Linked DNA regions of Homo sapiens. The protein of the gene in region 1 interacts with the protein of each later gene in a pairwise test. Each region holds a gene or a part of one and is shown in the gene's direction. Other genes may lie near its edges.

Region 1 (3,500 bases):
CTTACATATAACCTATATAGGCACATCCTCCTGTATATTTTAAATCATCTCTCGATTACTTATAATATCTCATACAACATAGGTCTTATGTAAATTGTTACACCGTATTGTTTAGGGAATAATGACAAGAAAAGTCTGTACAGTGTTTAGTACAGATACAGTTTTTTTTTTTTTACCCCCCCGAATATTGTCGATCCACAGATGCAGAACCCACGGTTACAGAAGGGTGACTGTATAATGTGAAACACATAAGTAATTTAAAATTTACTAGGAGTCACATTTTTTAAAAGTTAAAAACTAGTGAGATATTTTATGTTCTTTTTTTTTTTTTTACTAAATTTTCAAAATCTGGTGTGTTTTAAACTTGCAGCACATGTCATTTTAGAGTAACTACATTTTAAGTGTTCAGTAGACACGTGCTTTGGGTTTCTGGAACAGTGGTCAGGAAACTCAGGATGATGTTCTGTGGCAGTCATATAGATGGAAGAGTGAGGAACTACAGGAAAGGGGAATGGAGATAATAACTTAGAACATTTACTGAGCATTTAAGATGTGTCATGCACTGTGTTAAGTGCTTTATGTTGATGAAATCGGTTGTCACAACCACCCTGGGGTAAGTACCATTATTCCCATGTTACAGATGAGAAAACTCAGCCTCACAGAGCATAGACAGCTTCCCTAAAATTACACAACTGAAATGGTAGTGTATGGATTCCAGGCTAGTTCTGTGTGTTGTTAAGCATTCTGCTACACTGCTTTGGTATGTGCAGCAGAGTCCTGGAAGTAAGTCCGTGGAAGGCAGAAACAAGGTTTATATGAGCCGTTGTGGCCAGAGATTGACATTTGGATGTATACCACAGTTCCTGTCAGGTTGTGAATCTACAAGTCCAGAATTCAAAACGACTTGGATAAGTCATCCATCTGGGGCTGTGAACAGACCACTGCCCATGCAATAATAAATAGACCCTTAATGTGGGGATTAGGGGCATTGGTCCCCTGTGCAGTCGAAAATCCATGTATAATTTTGAACTCCCCCCAAACTTAAACGCTAATAGCCTATTATTGGCTGGATGCCTTACAGATAACATAAGCAGTCTATTAGCACATATTTTGTATTATATACTTTATTCTTACAGTAACATAAGCTAGAGAAAAAATGTTATTAAGAAAATTGTAAGGAACAGAAAATATATTTACTATTCATTAAATGGAAGTGGATCATCATAAATGTGTTCATCTTCATCTTGACTTTCAGTAGGCTGAGTAGAAAGAGGAGGGGTTGGTCTTGCTGTCTCAGGGTGGCTGAGGTGGAAGAAATTCTGTGTATAAGTGGACCCCTACCTTCAAATTTGTGTTAAAGGGTCAACTGTATATCCATTACCCCCAAAAAGATACCCTGGGTTTTTTTTGTTGTCCCTCCCTCCCTCCCTCAGTTCTTGTTCCTCCTCAGGCAACCACTGATAGGCTTTCTATCACTATAGATTAATTTGCATTTTCTTGCTTTCTTTTTTTTTTTTTTTTTGAGACGGAGTCTCGCTCTGTCACCCAGGCTGGAGTGCAGTGGCCCAATCTCGGCTCACTGCAACCTCCGCCTCCTGGGTTCAAGTGATTCTCCTGCCTCAGCTTCCCGAATAGCTGGGATTACAGGCACTTGCCACCACATCTGGCTAATTTTTGTATTTTTAGCAGAGACGGGGTTTCACTATGTTGGTCAGGCTGGTCGCAAACTCCTGCCCTCATGACCTGCCTGCTTCGGCCTCCCAAAGTGCTGGGATTACAGGTGTGAGCCACTGTCCCCGGCCTAATTTGCGTTTTCTAGAATTTTATATAATGAAATCATATAATATGTACTGGAGGGGGTGGTATCTGAGTCTTTGACTCAGCATAATTTGAGATTACGCCATGTTATTACAATTACTAGCAGTTCATTCCTTTTTAGTGATGAATAGTATTCCAATGTGTGGGTAGAGCAGTTTGTTCATCTATTGATGGACATTTGTGCTTTTTCTTGTTTTTGGCTATTACAAATATAGTTATTGTAAATACTATTGTACCAGTCTTTGTATGGATATGTGCTTTAATTTCTATTGGATAAATACCTAGGTGTGGAATGGCTAGGTCTTGTGGTAAATGTAACTTTTAAAGAGTTTTCCAAAGTGATTATACCATTTTACGTTGTCACTAGGTGGTATGAGTTCAAGTTGGTCCATATTCTTGTCAATAACTAGGTATGCTCAGTCTTTAATTTTATTTTAGACTTTTAAAATTTTACTATTATTTCCTTGTCATTTGAATTTGCATTTCCCTAGTGACTAGCAATGTAGAGCATTTTAGCATATGCTTATTTGTCTGTTTGATTATTTTGCCCATTTTTAAAATAGGGATGTTCTGTTGTAGAGTTTTGGGAGTTCATTGTGTATTCTAGATACATGTCCTTTATCAGATGTGAGATTTGCAAATTTTTCTCCCAGTTTGTGGCTTATCTTTTCGTTCTCTTAACAGTGTTTTTCAAAGAGCAGAAAGTCTTTATTTTGATGAAATCCAAATTAGCCTTGTCTTTTATGAATTTATGCTTTTGGTGCCGTTGGTGTTTTATCTAAGAACCTTTTGCCTAATTCAAGATCACAAAGATTTCTCCTGTGTTTTGTTCTAGAAGTGTTAATAGTCTTAGGTTTTATGTTTTGGTCTCTGATCCTTATTGAGTTAACTTTTATTTAGAGTGAGAAGTATGGATCAAAGTTTGTGGGTTTTTCTGCATATGGCTAATTATTTCAGCACCATTTGTAGAAAAACTATTCTTTCTCCACTGAGTTGACTTTGCATCTTTGTTGAAAGTCTGTGACCATATAGGTGTGGGTCTTTCTCTGGAGTCTTTTTGTTTTCCATTGATCTGTTTGTCTAGTCTTTATGTCAGTTTCTTATTCTCTTGGTTATAATAGCTTTATAATAAGTCTTAAAATCAGGTAGTATGAGTCCTCTAACTTTGTTCTTTTTAAAAGTTATTTTGACTGTTGTAGGCCTTTGCCCTTCCATATGGATTTTAGAATCCGTTATATCAGTTTCTACAAAAAAAGTAAGCTGATATCTGGATTGGGATTCTGTTGATTACAGAGCAAATTGAGGATAGATGACGTCTTAACAATATTTAATTTTCCAGTCTATGAATATGGTATCTCTCCATTTCTTTAGATCTTTAACTTTTCTTAGCAATGTTTTAAAATTTTCAGTATATAGATTTTTCACATCTTATGTTAGATTTATCCTTAAGCATTTTATATTTTTGATTCTATTGTAAATGGTAATTTAAAATTTTTTATTTCCGATTGTTTGTCGCCAATAAGTAGAAATATGATGGATTTTTGTATATTGATCTTGTGTCCTGCAACTTAGTTCCACCAAGTAGTTTTCTGAGGATTCCATGGTATTTTCTGCAAAGATGATCATTATCCAGTCTTGGATGCCTTTTGTTTTTCTTGTTGTATTGCAGTGGCTAACACCTT
Region 2 (3,500 bases), on another chromosome or scaffold:
GGGAGTGTGGAGGTCATCTGCTGTGGCCTCCTCCGTGTCCCTGGTCACTGAGGATGGAGGCTGCACCCCTCTAGGCCCTGGCTTGGGCATCCACACCCACTCCTCTGAATCAGCATACCTCTTGCACCCTGCTCAGTGTGCGCTGGGCCTCACTTAAGCCCTGACCTGAGGGGGCGGTTCTGTCTCTTGGGGGAGGGGCCCATGGGTGCCCGGTCAGCCTGCCTCAGGGGCTGCCTGTACAATCCACAACCCCAGTGCTGTCAGGTGTGTTCACGGATGTGGAGGCTTCCCTGAAGGACATCAGAGATCTGTTGGAGGAGGATGAGCTGCTAGAGCAGAAGTTTCAGGAGGCGGTGGGCCAGGCAGGGGCCATCTCCATCACCTCCAAGGCTGAGCTGGCAGAGGTGAGGCGAGAATGGGCCAAGTACATGGAAGTCCATGAGAAGGCCTCCTTCACCAACAGTGAGCTGCACCGTGCCATGAACCTGCACGTCGGCAACCTGCGCCTGCTCAGCGGGCCGCTTGACCAGGTCCGGGCTGCCCTGCCCACACCGGCCCTCTCCCCAGGTGAGCCCCACCAGACCCCATTGGGAGACTCGAGCTGGGGGTTTCTCTGGCCTCACTGACCACTGCTGCCCACAGAGGACAAGGCCGTGCTGCAAAACCTAAAGCGCATCCTGGCTAAGGTGCAGGAGATGCGGGACCAGCGCGTGTCCCTGGAGCAGCAGCTGCGTGAGCTTATCCAGAAAGATGACATCACTGCCTCGCTGGTCACCACAGACCACTCAGAGATGAAGGTGGGCTGGGTGAGCAGGGTAGAGGGGCTCTGGCTCCGGGCCCCACCCTTAGGAGTCGAGGCCCTGAGTGTCCGTCCCTGGCCCCCACCCCTTCCTCAGAAGTTGTTCGAGGAGCAGCTGAAAAAGTATGACCAGCTGAAGGTGTACCTGGAGCAGAACCTGGCCGCCCAGGACCGTGTCCTCTGTGCACTGACAGAGGCCAACGTGCAGTACGCAGCCGTGCGGCGGGTACTCAGCGACTTGGACCAAAAGTCAGTGCCCAGTCCTCTGCTCTTTCCCGGAGCCACCTGGAGCCCAGCCCCATGGTTCACCTGGAGCTGGCCCTTCTGCCCACCAGGTGGAACTCCACGCTGCAGACCCTGGTGGCCTCGTATGAAGCCTATGAGGACCTGATGAAGAAGTCGCAGGAGGGCAGGGACTTCTACGCAGATCTGGAGAGCAAGGTGGCTGCTCTGCTGGAGCGCACGCAGTCCACCTGCCAGGCCCGCGAGGCTGCCCGCCAGCAGCTCCTGGACAGGTTTGTGTGGCCCTGGGGCTGTGGTGCGGCTCGGGTCCAGACAGGCTGGGGTGATGGGAGCCTGGCCCCACTTTTTCCTTGCCTGTCGCACAGGGAGCTGAAGAAGAAGCCGCCGCCACGGCCCACAGCCCCAAAGCCGCTGCTGCCCCGCAGGGAGGAGAGTGAGGCAGTGGAAGCAGGAGACCCCCCTGAGGAGCTGCGCAGCCTCCCCCCTGACATGGTGGCTGGCCCACGACTGCCTGACACCTTCCTGGGAAGTGCCACCCCGCTCCACTTTCCTCCCAGCCCCTTCCCCAGCTCCACAGGCCCAGGACCCCACTATCTCTCAGGCCCCTTGCCCCCTGGTACCTACTCGGGCCCCACCCAGCTGATACAGCCCAGGGCCCCAGGGCCCCATGCAATGCCCGTAGCACCTGGGCCTGCCCTCTACCCAGCCCCTGCCTACACACCGGAGCTGGGCCTTGTGCCCCGATCCTCCCCACAGCATGGCGTGGTGAGCAGTCCCTATGTGGGGGTAGGGCCGGCCCCACCAGTTGCAGGTCTCCCCTCGGCCCCACCTCCTCAATTCTCAGGCCCCGAGTTGGCCATGGCGGTTCGGCCAGCCACCACCACAGTAGATAGCATCCAGGCGCCCATCCCCAGCCACACAGCCCCACGGCCAAACCCCACCCCTGCTCCTCCCCCGCCCTGCTTCCCTGTGCCCCCACCGCAGCCACTGCCCACGCCTTACACCTACCCTGCAGGGGCTAAGCAACCCATCCCGGCACAGCACCACTTCTCTTCTGGGATCCCCGCAGGTTTTCCAGCCCCAAGGATTGGGCCCCAGCCCCAGCCCCATCCTCAGCCCCATCCTTCACAAGCGTTTGGGCCTCAGCCCCCACAGCAGCCCCTTCCACTCCAGCATCCACATCTCTTCCCACCCCAGGCCCCAGGACTCCTACCCCCACAATCCCCCTACCCCTATGCCCCTCAGCCTGGGGTCCTGGGGCAGCCGCCACCCCCCCTACACACCCAGCTCTACCCAGGTCCCGCTCAAGACCCTCTGCCAGCCCACTCAGGGGCTCTGCCTTTCCCCAGCCCTGGGCCCCCTCAGCCTCCCCATCCCCCACTGGCATATGGTCCTGCCCCTTCTACCAGACCCATGGGCCCCCAGGCAGCCCCTCTTACCATTCGAGGGCCCTCGTCTGCTGGCCAGTCCACCCCTAGTCCCCACCTGGTGCCTTCACCTGCCCCATCTCCAGGGCCTGGTCCGGTACCCCCTCGCCCCCCAGCAGCAGAACCACCCCCTTGCCTGCGCCGAGGCGCCGCAGCTGCAGACCTGCTCTCCTCCAGCCCGGAGAGCCAGCATGGCGGCACTCAGTCTCCTGGGGGTGGGCAGCCCCTGCTGCAGCCCACCAAGGTGGATGCAGCTGAGGGTCGTCGGCCGCAGGCCCTGCGGCTGATTGAGCGGGACCCCTATGAGCATCCTGAGAGGCTGCGGCAGTTGCAGCAGGAGCTGGAGGCCTTTCGGGGTCAGCTGGGGGATGTGGGAGCTCTGGACACTGTCTGGCGAGAGCTGCAAGATGCGCAGGAACATGATGCCCGAGGCCGTTCCATCGCCATTGCCCGCTGCTACTCACTGAAGAACCGGCACCAGGATGTCATGCCCTATGACAGTAACCGTGTGGTGCTGCGCTCAGGCAAGGATGACTACATCAATGCCAGCTGCGTGGAGGGGCTCTCCCCATACTGCCCCCCGCTAGTGGCAACCCAGGCCCCACTGCCTGGCACAGCTGCTGACTTCTGGCTCATGGTCCATGAGCAGAAAGTGTCAGTCATTGTCATGCTGGTTTCTGAGGCTGAGATGGAGAAGGTGAGAAGAGGGGGTGGGTGCCCACGAGGGCAGTGTGGGGTGGCAGGGCAGGGGATCCTGGAAAACCAGGTCTGTCTTGGCTTATCTGTCCCTCAGCAAAAAGTGGCACGCTACTTCCCCACCGAGAGGGGCCAGCCCATGGTGCACGGTGCCCTGAGCCTGGCATTGAGCAGCGTCCGCAGCACCGAAACCCATGTGGAGCGCGTGCTGAGCCTGCAGTTCCGAGACCAGAGCCTCAAGCGCTCTCTTGTGCACCTGCACTTCCCCACTTGGCCTGAGTTGTGAGTCCACTGCTCTGGATGGTGGTTGGGGGTCTAAGTGCTGTCCAGTCCTT
Region 3 (3,500 bases), on another chromosome or scaffold:
TGGTAACCTCAGTTTGAAGTAGATCTGTACCAAAATGAAACAGCCTGTCAGAGTCCTTTGGATTATCAGTACCGTCAGGAGATCCTGAAGCTGGAGAATTCGGGTGGCAAGAAAAACCGACGAATCTTTACCTACACTGACTCTGATAGATACACCAATTTGGAGGAGGTATTGTTCTTTCTAGGGTCTCATAGCTTCCATCTTTGCTTCCTCTAGCTTTTTTGCCTCACTGAGTTCTGTGTGTTATGTCAGAGCCTAGTAAGGGGAGACAAGTAGCCTGTCTAGGAACTGCTGTGAGCTGCTGCTGCTGGCAGCCAGCCTGGAATAGAATGGGCACAGTCTACAGGTGGTGAGGCTGCTGCTCCCTTCTCTGCCTGCTAGAGGGCCTGGGGGAGCTGCCAGTATCTCTGATTATATGCTTGCAGAGTGCATACTGGGAGAAGTAACCACTGGGCTTGACTTCCTCCATGCATCATGAAAAAAGACAGGTAGTGGAGTCTGGAACAATATAGATAAAATTCATCAGGGGATTCAGCCCAAACTCTGAGTATATGGGTTTGAAGAGGAATTCAGTATAGCTATGGAAAATGGCTTATGTCCTCAATTTGCCTATGACAAAAATACCCTTGTGACCTTGTTTTACATTTTCTTCAGTCACTGCATTTCAGTTGCTTCTGTCTTCTCAGTAAGATTTTAAGCTCCTCGAGGGTAGAGCCTATTTTTTTTATTTTTGTCTATGACTCTGTAGGTCTCTGCAAGGAACAGGTATTCAATAAATGTTTTTGAAAGATTGACGTGCTTTCATTATTAGAGCTGTGGATTGATAACATTAGCTGGGCATGGTGGCATGTACCTGTAGTCCCGGCTACGTGGGAAGCTGAGGCGGGAGGATCACTTGAGCCAAGGAGTTCAAGGTTGCAGTGAGCTATGATAGCACCACTGCACTGCAGCCTGGGTGAGACCCTGTCTCTTAAAAAAATATATAAATTAAATAAAATTTGGGTTGTCTGTTTTGGAAAAGCAAATGAAAATGCAGTTAGTGCTCAGTTACCATGTGAGGATTTCCCACAAAATGCTTGTATCCCATTTGGCATTTTCTAACCACCTTGTTAACTTCAACATCTACCAAGCACACTAACCCAACTTTTTGTTGGTTTGTGCTCAGAGAATGCAGACTGATTTTAATATTAACATAAATAACTCCTTTTTAAAATCCAAAGGCAAACCATGATGTGGTAGAAATCTTCTTTGGGTTGTTTGGCTACTGCTCCCTCCGTTAGCATGTATAATTGTGAGGTGGCGGAACCTGTGGGGTTCAGGTCCTGGATGAGGTTTCAGGAGGAAGACTTCCCTTCAGGTACTTGGCTCCATGTGGCCCTGACCAGATGGCGTACACAGGGCTGCTTGCTTTTCCCAGCACTGTCAGAGAATGACCACTGCAGCCAGCGAGGTGCCTTCATTCTTGGTCGAGCGAATGGCAAATGTCAGGCGTCGCCGGCAGGACAGGCGAGGGATGTGAGTGCGGGCATGGGATGGGGGACAAGCTTTTACTTTTTATTTCCTAAAGTTGGGTAGTTTTGCATTTTTATCAGTGGTTATATATAGTATTCAAGTATTACTTTGTAATTAATTTAAAAAATAAATATAAAAATATAAAATATCTTCCTCACTCTTCATGTGGACATTTTTCCAAAGTGCCTCAGAGAGAGGGAAGGGATGTCATTTCTGTTTGTCAAATATTTTGGCTCTTAAAAAACAAAACAAAACAGTATGTCCACTAGCTCAAACTTCCCATTCTGAAGTGGCTCTCCACTGGGGTGCTCCATTGGGGTGTGCCAGGGAAGTGACCTTTCTGTGGTGTCTCCCAGGGAGGGCGGCATCCTCAAGTCACGCATCGTCACCTGGGAGCCCTCAGAAGAGTTTGTCAGGAACAACCACGTCATTAACACCCCTCTTCAGACAATGCACATCATGGCAGACCTGGGGCCCTATAAAAAGTGAGTGGCGCTTCTCACTGCCAGCTTAGAGCCTCATCCTTTTCTCCTCTCACCAGCTCTCCCCTTCCTGTTATTATCATCCTAGGTTATAGGGGAGGGAGGGACTTTTTCTTCCTTCTCTTCTTAGTTATGAGTGAAGCTTCTCACTGCCAACTCAGATCCTCATCTTCTTCTCCTCTCACCAGCTATCCCCTTCCTGTTATCATCCTGGGTTATAGGAGAGGAAGGGACTTTTTCTTCCTTTTTTTTCTTAGTTGTACTTGGAAGAAAGTTTTACCATGACAGCTCTCCCTATAGCCTCTGTTCTCTCCCCTGCAGTGGGCTCAGTATCTCTTCTTGTTTCCCTGAAGGACCATTGACCTCAACCTTGGTGTTTTCCTGATTTCTAGGCTTGGCTATAAGAAGTATGAACATGTCCTGTGTACTCTGAAGGTGGATAGCAATGGTGTGATCACAGTAAAGCCTGACTTCACGGGCCTCAAAGGACCCTACAGGTGAGGAGAGGAAGAAAGGGGTAGTGGAGACTGGCATTCCTTCCCTTGGTTGCACTTTTTGTCCCTAGTCAACTAGACTGTCAGAAAGTCCTTCATCTGTTCTAACTTTTACATTCCCAGGCAATGGTTCGTATTCTGTTCCAAGTCATAGGGCCTTAGAAAACCAGGGACTCCTTTCTCAGAAAATGTGCAACTGCACCAATTTGAAAGGGATCACTTCAGTGGTACAGTTAAATGACAGTGATTCTCTGTGCTGCTGAATGTAGGACCTGACCAGAACAGAGTGGGGTGAACTCAGCCAGGCTTTTCCTGTGGGCTGACTGTTCCTCATCTCTGTATCTTGGAAATGACAGAAATGTAAATTAGAAATTATCTGGCCCAACCTGTCCATTTTTCAGGTGAGAGAACTGGGTGGCAGGAATGTTGTGCCTTACAGTTTGACTGTAACTTCAAGCCAGAAATGGGCCCAGAACCTATACTTTCTGAGTCTAGTCTGGTGCCCTCTCTGCTTTACCCTTTTGTTTCTCTCTCCTGGTCGTCAATACAGCCACTTTTATCATCATATACTTTAGTGAGGTGTATGGCCCCTGATCGCTCATCCCTGGGCTGGGAGCTATCCCAGGGCCCATCTCTCATTATTAGAGTTGCTCCTTTCTGTGGTTTTGACCTTACAGGATTGAGACGGAGGGGGAGAAGCAGGAGCTGTGGAAATATACGATCGACAATGTTTCCCCCCACGCACAGCCGGAGGAGGAGGAGCGGGAACGGCGAGTGTTCAAGGATGTAAGCGCAAGTTCATTCCAAGTATCCAAGGGATGAGCCTCAGTGCCTGGAGCTGAGACCATTTCTGAACTTGATGTCAGCAGTTGCTCGGGAAAAGCCTTGCCCTTCATGGCCCCTTCTGACTTAGGCAGCATTGCTGACATATCAGACAGAAGTTTTTGATCATATTATAATAATAACAATAACCATTTATTTGAGCATTTACCATGTTCTGTGCTAGGTACTT
Region 4 (3,500 bases), on another chromosome or scaffold:
AATCCTTTCCATTTAGTTTGTATGATTTAATTACATATTTGACTTCTCCTATAGTAAACTCCTATGGCATCTTAAAATGTTGAAAGATGGAAAAATTATAGTGAATTTTAGTTGTAATTTCCTGTTTTGTCAGAAAATATTGGGAAAAAATTGTGAAATGTACATAACCTATTAGAAATAAATTGTACACATTACAGTTTGAAAAATGACTAGTGCCCTTTGGGCACAGAGGAAGTCAAACAAATGTTTAAAAACCTACTGCTTTAGTGTTTGCTTCTGAGGAATTGTGCATAAAACAAATTCTTTTTCTTTAATGCCATTTGTTTTTGCTTATCCATACTTCGCTTGCCTAATTTTAGTGGGCCGTCCGTTGAAGTGGTTGTCCAGAGTTAGAAGGATAGTATAATCATGGGATTTTTCCTATGGGAATTGAATCCTTGCCTTCACAGTTTTATTAGCACTTTACTGTAGCTTGCAGACAGAATTTTTTAAACCTGATTCTCTTACAAATTACATGAAAATTCCTAATAATGTAATTGGTTATGAAATAAAGAGGTAGGTACATCATATGTGGGGCTCCGGTGGATAGTAGTAACTGAATTCTTGCATTGTTCTTTGTTTTTAAGGTTTGTAATTAGGGCTTGTGAAAGAGGGATGTTAGTATTTTGGTTTCCCTTGTAGAATTTTCTCCATTTCTCATTAGAATGTGGTCATTTGGGTGCTTTTTGGTCCAGAACTGACTTAGCTACTACCGCTGTTGTGGGCCTTTTGAAAGCTGACCCTTTTTTTTGCATCTTTAGCACCTAACATACTAACTTTGTAGCACCTAATATGCTTTGTACAGTATAGTGTGAGTATACAATATAAATATTTGTTAAGTAAATTTCTTCTGTTATTAGTGAACTTGGCATTTTTGTCCATGATAATGCTTGTCTGCTTTGGTGTTTGCTTCCGAGGTACTATCAATAAGATTTGTTGTAGCTCTTTTCCTTTAACTCTGCAGCCATGTATTCATTATTTTCTTTCTTGGGATTTGGTTTATTATCTTTTAAGAGGAACATAGATTAAGTATGTGTTCTCCTTACTGAAGGGAGATGTGCAGCTCAAAGAAGTTAATAGAGTGGGAATGTTTCTATATACCTTTATGTGACACTACCTAAGAATTTTTCAGACTTTTCTCCGTGTAGATTTTTATTACTTCCTTGATCTCTGTAGTTTTCTGCTAGACAAAAATCTACAAAGCATTTTCAGACTAAAGTCCTAGTGGCTTTCCAGAGTCTAAAAATATTTTTTTTTCTAGTAGTAGCATTTTCTTTCACTTCAGTTCTTCAATTTTTTTTTCAATGTTTTACTAAGATGATTAAGAGTACATAGATCAATAATGTATGTTTTTCTTTTTCTTTCTTTTTTTGGGGGGAGACACAGTCCTGCACTGTTGCCTAGGCTTGGGTATAGTGGTGCGATCTCTGCTCACTGCAACCTCTGCCTCTCGCGTTCAAGAGATTCTCGTGCCTCAGCCTCCCAAGTAGCTGAGATTACAGGCATGTGCCACCACGCCCAGCTAATTTTTGTGCTTTTAGTAGAGATGGGGTTTCACCATGTTGGCCAGGCTTGTCTTGAACTCCTGGCCTCAAGTGATCTCCCTGCCTTGTTCTCCCAAAGTGCTGGGATTACAGGCGTGAGCCACTTGCGCCCAGCGTTTTTTCAAGTACTATGGTAGAATTTTCAATCTGAAAGAAATCTTAGGGATCTTCTGATCCAACAACACAGTTACTTTTCAGGTGAAGGACTTCTCAGTAGAATTTTCTGTAGTGATAGAAATGTTTTATATCTGAAAATGTGTTTCTATGTGTTCAGTACAGTATACTTCATAGATGGCTCACATTTCAAGATCTTGAAGTATGGTTTCCAAATCTCTGTGTGACAGTGGGACTTATTTTCAAATGTAATATCATATATATGAATATATGTATTTATATATGTGTATAAGCAGATCAAAGCAGAGCCCATTCACCGTGCCTATCTTACAGTTCTGTTCAGCTTCTCTCCTGACTACTAAGACACCTCTTTGGAACACAGTTTTACAAAACACTGACTCAGAACAACTGCATTGTTTTGTAGCCAGGAAATTTAAAGCTCAAGGACATTAAGCTAGGTCTTGATAGAGCCTGTACTAAAGGTATCTGACATTCATTGTACTGTACCTCACTGTAAGTTCTTTTATATTGTGAACAATTTATATTTTTAGAAATGTCAGGTTTAGATTAATTTGTCATTTAGTTTATCAGTTGAGCCAGAGGATAAAGATGAAAACCCTAAGTCACTTTAACTCTGTGTTTCAGAATCTTTGTAGAGTTTGTTTTATAAACTCCCTATAGCCACCCTAAACCATTGAATCAGATTTATTGAGTAGGCTATGCTATGATTTGCAGCAGGGCTGCTGTGCTGTATCTTGAGGGTGGTTATTCCGAAGCACAGCCAGAATCCAAAACCACTGCATTAGGTAACCAGTTTTTTAGGCGTGTAATTACAGCCTGCTAAAGTAATGGAGTGAAAAATCAGTAATTTAATACCTTTATTATATAATGAATTAAGAAGATAAGCTTCTTCGTGTTTCTAAGGATGCTTTAGTGGGTTAGAAAGACAAAAGAAACTACCATCAGAGTGAACAGACAACCTACAGAATAGGAGAAAATTTTTAGCATCTACCCATCTGACAAAGGGCTAATATCCAGAATCTACAAAGTACCTAAACAAATTTACAAGAAAAAAACAACCCCATCAAAAAGTGGGCAAAGGATATGAACAGATACTTCTGAAAAGAAGACATTTATGCAGCCAACAGACATATGAAAAAATGCTCATCATCACTGGCCATCAGAGAAATGCAAATCAAAACCACAATGAGATACCATCTCACACCAGTTAGAATGGCGATCATTAAAAAGTCAGGAAACAACAGGTGCTGGAGAGGATGTGGAGAAATAGGAACACTTTTACACTGTTGGTGGGACTGTAAACTAGTTCAACCATTGTGGAAGACAGTGTGGTGATTCCTCAAGGATCTAGAACTAGAAATACCATTTGACCCAGCCATCCCATTACTGGACATATACCCAAAGGATAATAAATCATGCTGCTATAAAGACACGTGCACACATATGTTTATTGAGGCACTATTCACAATAGCAAAGACTTGGAACCGACCCAAATGTTCATCAATGATAGACTGGATTAAGAAAATGTGACACATATACACCATGGAATACTATGCAGCCATAAAAAATGATGAGTTCATGTCCTTTGTAGGGACATGGATGAAGCTAGAAACCATCATTCTGAGCAAACTATCACAAGGACAGAAAACCAAACACCGCATGTTCTCACTCATAGGTGGGAATTGAACAATGAGAACACTTGGACACAGGGTGGGGAACATCACACACCGGGGCCTGTCGTGGGGTGGGGGGAGTGGGGAGGGATAGCATTAGGAGATATAC
Region 5 (3,500 bases), on another chromosome or scaffold:
AGTGACTCGGGAGGCTGAGGCATGAGAATCACATGAACCCTGGAGGCAGAAGCTGCAGTGAGCCGAGATCGCACCACTGCACTCCAGCCTGGGTGACACAGCAAGACCCTGTCTCAAAAAAAAAAAAAAAAAAAAAAAGTTAAATGTACAGAAAAGGAGCACCCATATAACCCTCACCCAGATTCACCGACTTGTGACATTTAGCCAATTTAGCCATATTTGCCCACGCATGCAGCCCCTGAGCTATTGGAAAATAAACTTCCTCTTCTGTAAACCTGGACTTCGGGGGAAAAAAGAAAAGAAACTGCCTACATCCTTTTTAGTCCATCCTCCAGAAGCTTCAAAAGTCAACAAGTGTCCCTTCCCAGAATCTACATCCATGCATAAGGGAGTGGCCTTCTTGCCTTAGGTTCAGCCGAAGGCTCTTGGTAAACAGTGGCCTTGTGTTCTGAGTTGCCTCACCCCTCCCCTGCCCTCCCTGAACCAGAAGTGTCCAAAGGTTCCCTGCACACCGCCCCCCACCCCCGCAATGCTCTGTTGTAGTTACACCATGGGGCAGGTTCCTCCTCCTCGACCCCTACAGGTGCCTTTGTGGGTATGAGTGTGAAGAGCCTCTCCCCCTTACGAAGCTGCTTGTGCATGGCAGTCCTTGGGAAGGAACCACTTCAGATTGTTTGGGGAAACATCCCCTAGCAACAAAAAGACAAACGGTTACAGCAAGAAAACCCTGATTTAGATGTAGACCTTTGTGGGTGCTGGAGGAGGTGATACCTGCATCTGTCATCAGATTGTGGAGAGTAGAACCATCTGACTACGAAATGGGTCTGTTCATCTGGCCTGGACCACAGCCAATTCCTCCCTAGCTCGAGATCAGACCTCCGGCTCTGGCCCAACCTCAGATGCAGTCACTGGGTAACCCCATAAGCTCCACTTACTGGCCTGCCCCTCCTTCTCCACCTTGTGAACACAGTACGGCTGAAGCCCAAAGGATTCCAGTCCCTGCTGTTTCCCTCTCAGTATGGGTGGCCCACGCTGGAATTTCTCACAATGAACCCTCTAGAAGTGGGATGACAGGCACTGTGGCATTAAGTCAGGGGGCAGCCCCCTTTTGCTTTAGGCGGTGGTTGGTTCAGGTGGCAGGGGACAGGTGAGGGGTAGGGCACGGAGCCACTGAGCTGGGGACACCCAACTAAGCCACTGGTGCCCTGGGCGGGTTATTTCACCTCTGCAAACCTCCAGTGTTCATGTCATGGTACTGATCTGTAAAATGGGAATTTAAAAAGGTACCTGCTCAGTGTGTAGGGTTTAGATGAAGACAGGCGAGAGCAGGCCCGTAAAGCATTTTGCATGGTGCCTGGAACACTTGATTTTATATCCATCTATCTATCTACCCATCCATCCGTCCATTTAATTTAATTAATTTTTTGTTTTTGAGATGGCATCTTGCTCTGTTACCCAGGCTGGAGTGCAGTGGCATGATCTCGGCTCACTGCAGCCTCCTCCTCCCGGGTTCAAGTGGTTTTCCTGCCTCAGCCTCCCGAGTAGCTGGGATTACAGGCACGTGCCACCACGCCTGGCTAATTTTTTTTTTCCTAGTAGAGATGGGGTTTCACCATGTTGACCAGGCTGGTCTCGAACTCCTGACCTCAAGTGATCCCCGCCCACCTCAGCCTCCCAAAGTGCGGGGATTACACGTGTGAGCCACTGTGCCCAACCGATCCATTAATTTCATATCATATCTATCCATCCATCCATCCATCCATCCATCCATCCATCCATCCATCTATAGAGAGAGAGATACCACTATATAGAGTGGTCTGTACCTTAAAATGCTTAAGCGTTACTTGCGTCTCCCCCATGAGTCATGTAGGGTGGGAGGGAGTAGGGTGGGTGCTTCTGGACATTTGCACCATAAGCCAGCCAGGACCCGGGTTGGCATGTCCCCAGCTCATGTGGCGGCGGCCCTTGCAGGTGCAGAGCTACATGGAACACTACTGCAACAGCTCCACAGACCGGCGGGTTCTGCTCATGTTCCTGGACATCTGTTCAGAGCTGAATAAGCTCTGCCAGCACTTTGAGGCCGTGCACTCTGGCACCCCAGTCACCAACAACCTCCTGGAGAAATGCAAAACCCTCGTTAGCCAAAGCAACGACTTAAGCAGCCTCAGAGCAAAGTAAGTCCCTCTGATGCTGCTCTTGAGGCCCCGTGTGTGCCTGTGGGGAGGCCTCTGTCCTGCTTCTTTCCTGTTGCCTGGATCATGGTGCTCCTATTAGACCACCCCGGGCAGGAAATCCCAGTCTCCACTCATTTATTGGAATGACTCGGATTCAACAAAACCTTTTCTTTACAACCATCGTAGACATGGCAGGACACCAGGTGTCTCACGGGTGTTAGCACCAGGCAGGTGGAGAAGGGGGTGTAGAGCCCAGAGCAGTTGCCCCCAGAAGCCCACAGAGATCCTCACTGACATGCAAAGAAGTGGACACCAGAGCCGCCTCCCAGGGGCAGCAGCACTGGCACTGAGGGCTCCTCATCCTGACAGCCCGGGAGCCTGCAGCACAGTGGGCCAGAGCCTGGGGAAGCTCTGTAGATACCAGGGTGAGAAGAGCCAGAGGGATGAGCCAGCCAGTTCCTCACCCCTAACCCAGGTTTCTACGGACCATGGGGCAGTGGTTTGCATCTCCTGTCTTTCACACCAGAATTACCTGGGGCTTGTGGCACCCCAGGCCTGGTCTGCCAGAATCTCTGGGGACAGAGCGCCTCAGCGTGCTGTGTGTCCAGTTCTAAAGCCTCCCCAGGTGACTCTGCTGTGCCTGAGGTGTGGCAGCTGCTTGCCACGGCATGGCAAGTCCCGGGAGCATGGGTTCACCTGGCCCCCTGCCGTCCTGCAGATACCCTCATGATGTGGTGAACCACCTCAGCTGTGACGAGGCCCGGAACCACTACGGCGGCGTGGTCAGCCTCATCCCCCTCATCCTAGACTTAATGAAAGAATGGATCGCCCACTCCGAGAAGTTGCCGCGCAAGGTGCTGCAGCACGTGAGTGAGCCCCAGGCGCACCAGGAGAGCACCAGGGGAGCCGCTCGTCCTGCCCAGGCCATAGGGACCCAGCCCAGGGCCACTAAACACAAGTGTAGACAGCTCACAAAAGCCAGCCTCAAACCCAGGGGATGTTCAAAACCACCCTGGAGGCCTCCTGGTGGGAAATTGTAACTCAGAGCCAGGAGCTCCGTCGGCGGAGAGCTTTGCTGTTTAATTTGGATTTTACTGGTTGGTCCTTTTTTCACTGGTACCCATGGACCCTGCCACTTACTAACCCCAAGGGAATCAGCCAATATATTACTGAGACTTCCTCTCTCTCTTCTTGCTTTAACTTCTTTTTTTTTTGAGACGGAGTCTCGCTCTGTCGCCCAGGCTGGAGTGCGGTGGCGCAACCTCGGCTCACTGCAACCTCCGCCTCCCAGGTTCACGCCATTCTCCTGCCTCAGCCTCCCAAGTA
Region 6 (3,500 bases), on another chromosome or scaffold:
CTGCCTCAGCCTCCCGAGTAGCTGGGACTACAGGCGCCCGGCTAATTTTTTGTATTTTTTTTAGTAGAGACGGGGTTTCACTGTGTTAGCCAGGATGGTCTCTGTCTCCTGATCTCGTGATCCGCCCATCTCGGCCTCCCAAAGTGCTGGGATTACAGGCATGAGCTACCGTGCCCAGCCATTATTGTTTTTCTTAACCAGTGTTCTTAGAATTGAAGTGGAAGAAGAAGAGGAAATCCTCTTGAACTCTTACACCACACCTTCAAAGGTAAGTAAACAGTGTTTGGACATTGCATTTTACAAGTAACATTTTAAAATAGTTTCACAACATTTGAAGATCTGAGGGAAAAAATCAACCACTCTCATGCATTTCCTACTATATTTCCACTTATACATCTTCCTTTCTGATCATATGTCTAAATGTTTTACATAATGGCAGTCCTTATAAACATATAGTTATCCTGCTTTTCTCAGCACAACATAAAACATTTCTATAAACATAATTTCTCCATAATTGCCCTTTTTGAATAGTTTCATAGTTTTATACTATAATTGAATAATTCAGTTCTGTGTTGGATCCCAGTGTGAAAGGTCAAGTAGGGTAGTGGAAAAGCATTGCCTTCAAAGTCTGAGTCAGAAGACCTAGGTGACCTGGAGTGAGTTGTTTTATCTCTCTGAGACAGTTTCCTTATCCATAATATCAGGATTCATTCATTCAGTTATCCAGCAACAACTATGTGGCCAGGCGCAGTGGCTCATGCCTGTAATCCCAGCACTTTGGGAGGCTGAGGCAGGCGGATCACGAGGTCAGGAGATCGAGACCATCCTGGTTAACATGGTGAAACTCTGTCTCTACCATAAATACAAAAAAAGAAATTAGCCGGGCGTGGTGGTGGGCGCCTGTAGTCCCAGCTACTTGGGAGGCTGAGGCAGGAGAATGGCGGGAACCTGGGAGGCAGAGCTTGCAGTGAGCCGAGATCGCGCTACTGCACTCCAGCCTGGGCGACAGAGCGAGACTCCGTCTCAAAAAAAAAAAAAAAAACAACAACAACAACTATGTACTGCACTAGACATTGAGTAAACAATGGTGAATGAAACAGACATGGATGGGCTCTGCCCTCAAGAAGCTGACAGCCAGTGCACAATATCCCCCATCTTGGAGGGCTTGAAGAGGAAATAAATAGGTAAAGTATCAGGCCCTATGCAATGTATTCAGTAATGGTAACTATTCTTTATACTAACTAAATAAGTTTGTAGACATTCATAAACATGGAGTGAGCCTTAATTATTCAAAGTAAACTACATCATAAGAAAGAGGTAATTTACATTGCCCTATGCAATGTATTCAGTAATAGTAATTATTCTTTTTTGTTGTTGTTGTTGTTGTTTTGAGATGGAGTTTTCCTCTTGTTGCCCAGGCTGGAGTGCAATGGCACGATCTCGGGTCACTGCAACCTCCGCCTCCCGGGTTCAAGCAATTCTGCCTCAGCCTCCTGAGTAGCTGGGATTACAGGCATGCGCCACTACGGCCAGCTAATTTTTGTATTTTTAGTAGAGACGGGGTTTCACCATGTCAGCCAGGCTGGTCTCGTACTCCTCACCTGCGGTGATCCACCTGCCTCGGCCTCCAAAGTGCTGGGATTACAGATGTGAGCCACCGTGCCCAGCCCAGTAATTATTCTTTATACTAACTAAATAAATTTGTAGAAATTCATAAACATGGAGGGAGCCTTAATTATTCAAAGTAAATTACATCATAAGAAAGAAGGTAAGGGCTGGGTGCAGTGGCTCATGCCTGTAATCCCAGCACTCCGGGAGACCAAGGCAGGAGGATCAGTGACCAGAGATCATGCCGCTGCTCTACAGCCTGGATGACAAAGTGAGACCCTGTCTCAGGAAGAAAGAAGGTAAATAGTTTAGATATGCCTGTGGAGAGTAAGAGGGCCAAAAATGTGCCCCATGAAGTTGCTAACACAAAACCAGGTGCATATAATATTAAAAGAAATAATTAGGTGTTTGTTAGAGTTTCTTAAAATTGGAGAGACTATAACTCATTTGATTTTCCTCCTAAAGTGGTTTTCTGAGTCCATATCCCAGTGAAGGACACCTCCGTTCTTCCATTGACTCAGGCCAAGAACCTTGGAGACCTCCTTAAATCCTTTTTCTCTCACACCCCACATCCAACTTAGCTACCAGTCCTGTCATCCCTCTCCAGGATCTGGCCACCTCTCACCATTTCCACTGCTACCACCAGGTCCACAGCATCATTGTCTCCTGAATGATTGGGACAGCCTCCTAACTAGTCCATTGGCTTCTTTCTGCCATATCCACCTCTAACCACCTCTCCACCCAGCAGCCAGAGTGCTCCTTTCCAGCAAAAGGTCAGGTTTTCTTGCTCACATCTCTCCCACTGGCTTTTCGTCTTTCCTCCTGATATGCAAAGTTTGAACCAGCATATGTGAAGTTCTGTAGGAGCTGGCCCCCTCCTCCTTCTGTCCTCTTTCCCTGCTCCCCTTTGCTCTCTGCTTCTGCCGTGCCAAATATGGGTTCATTTCCTATGTCTCCTTGTCAGGGAACAAGCCTGCCTAAAAGAACAAAGCCCTTCTTCTGTTTTATTTTCTTGCTTTATTTTTCTCCTTATTATTCTCTTGCTTTATTACCACCAAACATGTTATATACTTACTTTTTTGTTTTAGTCGGCCTTCCCTCCATTAGATGGAAGCTCCTTGAGAATAGAGACTTTGTTTTTACTTGCTGCTGTTTTCCCAGCACCCTGGCATGTTAATAGTTGTTGAAAGATCTCTGAATAAGGGAGTGTGGTTGGCTCTCTCAATTGCAATACCAATGGGACCACCACGGTTTTATCTGGTTAACAGCTTCACAGATCCAGAATTTTATGTAATTTGTCTGTGTATCCAGAATTGATCATATTCCGGAGTCTGACTCATGGTAACCCAGCTGTCAGTAGACTGATGCGTAAGCCAGGTGCAAATTTGTTTACTTTACTATTGAAGTAGATACCCTTCCAATGACTGAAATCCCATATTTAGGATACCCCATTCCTGCTATGGAAATACTTAGGAGACTAAATTGTGAATCAAAGTTTGTGACTGTGAGGCCGAGTGCAGTGGCTCACACCTGTAATCCCAGCACTTCGGGAGGCTGAGGCAGGTGGATCACTTGAGGTCAGGAGTTCGAGACCAGCGAAACTCCATCTCTACTCAAAAAATTAGCTGGGCATGGTGGTGGTGCCTATAATCCCAGCCACTCAGGAGGCTGAGGCAGGAGAATCGCTTGAACCCGGGAGGTGGAAGTTGCAGTGAGCCAAGATTACACCACTGCCCTCCAGGCTGGATGACAGAACCAGACTCCGTCTGAAAAAAAAAAAAAAAAAAAAGTTTGTGACTGTGAATTCCACGCTAAATGAGTTGGAGTGAAATGTTGAGCAAACAATATGTCCAGGCTAGAGATACGTAAAATGCTTAGAACAGTACTTATCA
Region 7 (2,919 bases), on another chromosome or scaffold:
ACTTCAATTAACAAATCCCCTGGGAATGATGCCCCTTTGTAAGGCATCAGCCTTGTTAAATCACTCCTCTAACCGTAAATCACATCCGTAATGCAAAGCTTCCTCTCACAAGATAAAGATGCCTGTGTGTACTGCTTCTGCGTCTATCTTCCCAATTAAAGGTACAAGAGGCAGAGTCTGAAGAGTGCCAGGTATCCCCAAACTTTGTTTTCTTTTTCTTTTTTTTCATTTTCCTTCCCAGAAGAGAACCAAACTGTTTTTTTCTTCCCCCCATCGGTGGTGACATCCTCACCTCTCTTGCTCTCCTCCCCTAATAGAACACAAAATATCATCACAAAGATGTACTTTCCCCTTTTCCTAAGATCAGATCCAATATAAGTTGTTTGCAGTTATTTACCACCTACATTTCTTCTGTCATTCATGCTGAAGTCTGAGTGCAATCAGACATTTTCCTTTGATTATCGTATGAATGGTGTCTAAATATTTAACTTCACCGCCTTGTTTGGGGAATTTTAGGGGTCACCAAGTAGAAAACTCATTTTGTCCTTTTTAGGTTGATTTGGAACAGGATGGCAGGAGGGTTCACCTATGGTAAACTCCGCTTCATTGCTTCACACCTTGGAAACCAAGCTTGGATTAATCCAATGGAGCTGCTGAAGTCCCCATTCCGGGAGCTGTTGGAGGTAGAGAAAGCTCTGTTGATTTTTTTACTAGCTTTTGGAGCCTTTAATCCTAGCAATTAGTATCTCCTCTGCTATGGCTGATCCTTATAATGATGCGAGACCCTCCAGTGCATATTTTATGTTTTCTGTAACATTTGCTTGAGTTACAATTAGGAAGCTGTGTGTGCACACGTGTGTATACATGTGCCACGAACACCCCTGTGCTCCTCCTCCAAAGCCCTATTCCCCTATTGCGTTTGTCCCTCTGGATTTGAATTTCGTTATTTTTTTCTCATTGTTTATGAAGGGATTATATTACTTAAAAAAAAAAACTTGAAAAAAGTGGAAAAGTTCTCCAAACTCTCAACAATCTGCTTTCTCAGGAAAAGCTCTGCCAAACCTCAGCAATTTAAATGTTAATGATTAACTCATAATTCTTTTTCATTCTACTCAAAGATAATTGTAGTCATTGTAATAATGAGCATGGAGAACAAATGTCTGCTTTATGTGCCTTGAGCCAAGACCACACTGCTTTCAAAAAGATCAGTTCATCACAGTAGTAGACTTGGTAATTTCCTACATGGTAATGCACTTCCCATGAAATGAGCAAAAGAATAGTTTTAAATGTACCTTGATTTCCATCATTATTTTATGTAATCCTTCATGGAAAATGAAAGAATTGGAACAATGTTATATTGCCCTGAAATTTTGCAGAAAATCACAAAACTGACATATGTAAATGTATCTTTTAAGCAATGTTACGTCCCTGAAAAAGAGAATGAATTAAGTGTCATGAAGGTTAAAAGATCGTTATATTCACAAATGTTTCCATTAATGACTAAAAACCAGATTAATTCTACAGTGTTCTGTTTTAAACTGATATGAAAATGAAAAGGGACTAAAAAAAGCACAAAAGCCAGATTGAAGCTATAACATGTAATGGGAGCTAGCATTAGGGGTGTGAGAATCTTGCCAATTTGTCCATCCTCCAACGCACCTCTGCATCTCAACCCTCTCCTCATTTTTATGACTCCCACATTGATCCAGTCCTCCAGATAAATTCAGCTGGCCTAGCAGAAATATCACATAAGGATTATTGCACTCAAGATAAAAGAACATCCCCCTATTAAAAAGATTAAATCAACATTCTTTAACCTGCCACTTAAGGCCTTCTGTCGATGTCTCTTCCTTTACCCAGCCACTTTCCTTCAAGGTCACCCTGCTGGACAAGTGGAACAACCTTTTTTTTTTTTTCTTTTTTTTTTGGCAGAGTTTCGCTCTGTCACCCAGGCTGGAGTGCAGTGGCTCTCGGCTTGCTGCAACCTCCACCTCCTGGGTTCAAGCGATTCTCCTGCCTCAGCCTCGCCTCCTGAGTAGCTGGGACTACAGGTGTGTGCCACCATGCCCGGCTAATTTTTTTGTATTTTTAGTAGAGACAGGGTTTCACCATTTTGGCTGGTCTCAAATTCCTGACCTCAAATGATCAGCCCGCCTTGGCCTCCCAAAGTGCTGGGATTACAGGTACGAGGCACTGAGCCCGGCCAGTGGAACCACTTTCTATAGTGTGCCCATACTGGGCCTTGGACATCTTTCCTAGTTTGGTACCTGCTGTTTACTTAACAGCATGCTACTGTGTATCTGTGCCATCTTGTCACACTTGTCTTTGTAATGTTGCCTAACTCTGGCTCTCCAGATTTGTACATTACGACTTTATTGTAAATCAGAGAAGGTCAATAAATTTACTTCTTTCAAATTTCCCCCATGGTCAAGGACTTCGTATGTCTTCACTAAATGCTTATTAAGCCTCTAAAACAATGGAATTTAGATAAAGCTGGTAGGAATAAAAAGTGAACATTGGTATAAAAAACAGCAGTGAAATATACTAATGTGGCAATGAGATGCTCTTCAAGAATTTGGAGAAAAATACAGAAAATAAGAGGGTAAGTAAAGTCTGTACACTTAGTATAAAATCTCCAGTCACCTCTACTAGTCCAGGTAGAAGACTGGAGAATTTTTTTCTGAACGTCTCCAGGGCAAGATGCCTTCAAAGATGGGCATTTGGGGTTCCCCAGTGAAATTGTCAGTTTGCCATTCGGTTGCTCTGTGGCAAAGCCTACCAGTTATAATCGCCACCCATGCACACAGAGCCTACCATCCATTCTGTAATGTGTTATTTTTAAATGTCAATGAACATATAAGGATCCATAGGTATTTGAGGAAAGCCTCTAGCATGAATTAGAAAGACCTAAACCAGCAA

What was found.
Region 2: the proteins of DDX24 (region 1) and PTPN23 interact in a two-hybrid assay, tested with the Homo sapiens proteins (one large-scale study listed by IntAct).
Region 3: the proteins of DDX24 (region 1) and MKS1 interact in a two-hybrid assay, tested with the Homo sapiens proteins (one large-scale study listed by BioGRID and IntAct).
Region 4: the proteins of DDX24 (region 1) and EIF3E interact in a two-hybrid assay, tested with the Homo sapiens proteins (one large-scale study listed by BioGRID and IntAct).
Region 5: the proteins of DDX24 (region 1) and SPACA9 interact in a two-hybrid assay, tested with the Homo sapiens proteins (one large-scale study listed by IntAct).
Region 6: the proteins of DDX24 (region 1) and POLA2 interact in a two-hybrid assay, tested with the Homo sapiens proteins (one large-scale study listed by BioGRID and IntAct).
Region 7: the proteins of DDX24 (region 1) and TRDMT1 interact in a two-hybrid assay, tested with the Homo sapiens proteins (one large-scale study listed by BioGRID and IntAct).

What each region holds. Positions count from the first base shown.
Region 1 is NC_000014.9:94,074,703-94,078,202, reverse strand, and holds part of DDX24 (ATP-dependent RNA helicase DDX24), read left to right. Parts: intron 1-3,500. UniProt on the Homo sapiens protein: ATP-dependent RNA helicase that plays a role in various aspects of RNA metabolism including pre-mRNA splicing and is thereby involved in different biological processes such as cell cycle regulation or innate immunity.
Region 2 is NC_000003.12:47,408,521-47,412,020, forward strand, and holds part of PTPN23 (tyrosine-protein phosphatase non-receptor type 23), read left to right. Parts: intron 1-255; coding exon 256-567; intron 568-642; coding exon 643-797; intron 798-896; coding exon 897-1,048; intron 1,049-1,134; coding exon 1,135-1,314; intron 1,315-1,407; coding exon 1,408-3,166; intron 3,167-3,262; coding exon 3,263-3,447; intron 3,448-3,500. UniProt on the Homo sapiens protein: Plays a role in sorting of endocytic ubiquitinated cargos into multivesicular bodies (MVBs) via its interaction with the ESCRT-I complex (endosomal sorting complex required for transport I), and possibly also other ESCRT complexes.
Region 3 is NC_000017.11:58,212,756-58,216,255, reverse strand, and holds part of MKS1 (tectonic-like complex member MKS1), read left to right. Parts: intron 1-12; coding exon 13-168; intron 169-1,357; exon of another isoform or gene 1,358-1,417; coding exon 1,418-1,515; intron 1,516-1,868; coding exon 1,869-1,997; intron 1,998-2,386; coding exon 2,387-2,491; intron 2,492-3,165; coding exon 3,166-3,274; intron 3,275-3,500. UniProt on the Homo sapiens protein: Component of the tectonic-like complex, a complex localized at the transition zone of primary cilia and acting as a barrier that prevents diffusion of transmembrane proteins between the cilia and plasma membranes.
Region 4 is NC_000008.11:108,210,718-108,214,217, reverse strand, and holds part of EIF3E (eukaryotic translation initiation factor 3 subunit E), read left to right. Parts: intron 1-3,500. UniProt on the Homo sapiens protein: Component of the eukaryotic translation initiation factor 3 (eIF-3) complex, which is required for several steps in the initiation of protein synthesis.
Region 5 is NC_000009.12:132,885,398-132,888,897, forward strand, and holds part of SPACA9 (sperm acrosome-associated protein 9), read left to right. Parts: intron 1-1,971; coding exon 1,972-2,174; intron 2,175-2,892; coding exon 2,893-3,214; 3' UTR 3,215-3,500. UniProt on the Homo sapiens protein: Microtubule inner protein (MIP) part of the dynein-decorated doublet microtubules (DMTs) of multiciliated respiratory cells and the distal singlet microtubules of monoflagellated spermatozoa.
Region 6 is NC_000011.10:65,268,462-65,271,961, forward strand, and holds part of POLA2 (DNA polymerase alpha subunit B), read left to right. Parts: intron 1-210; coding exon 211-268; intron 269-3,500. UniProt on the Homo sapiens protein: Accessory subunit of the DNA polymerase alpha complex (also known as the alpha DNA polymerase-primase complex) which plays an essential role in the initiation of DNA synthesis.
Region 7 is NC_000010.11:17,136,836-17,139,754, reverse strand, and holds the end of TRDMT1 (tRNA (cytosine(38)-C(5))-methyltransferase), read left to right. Parts: 3' UTR 1-553; coding exon of another isoform or gene 554-558; 3' UTR 559-2,419; downstream 2,420-2,919. UniProt on the Homo sapiens protein: Specifically methylates cytosine 38 in the anticodon loop of tRNA(Asp). Has higher activity on tRNA(Asp) modified with queuosine at position 34.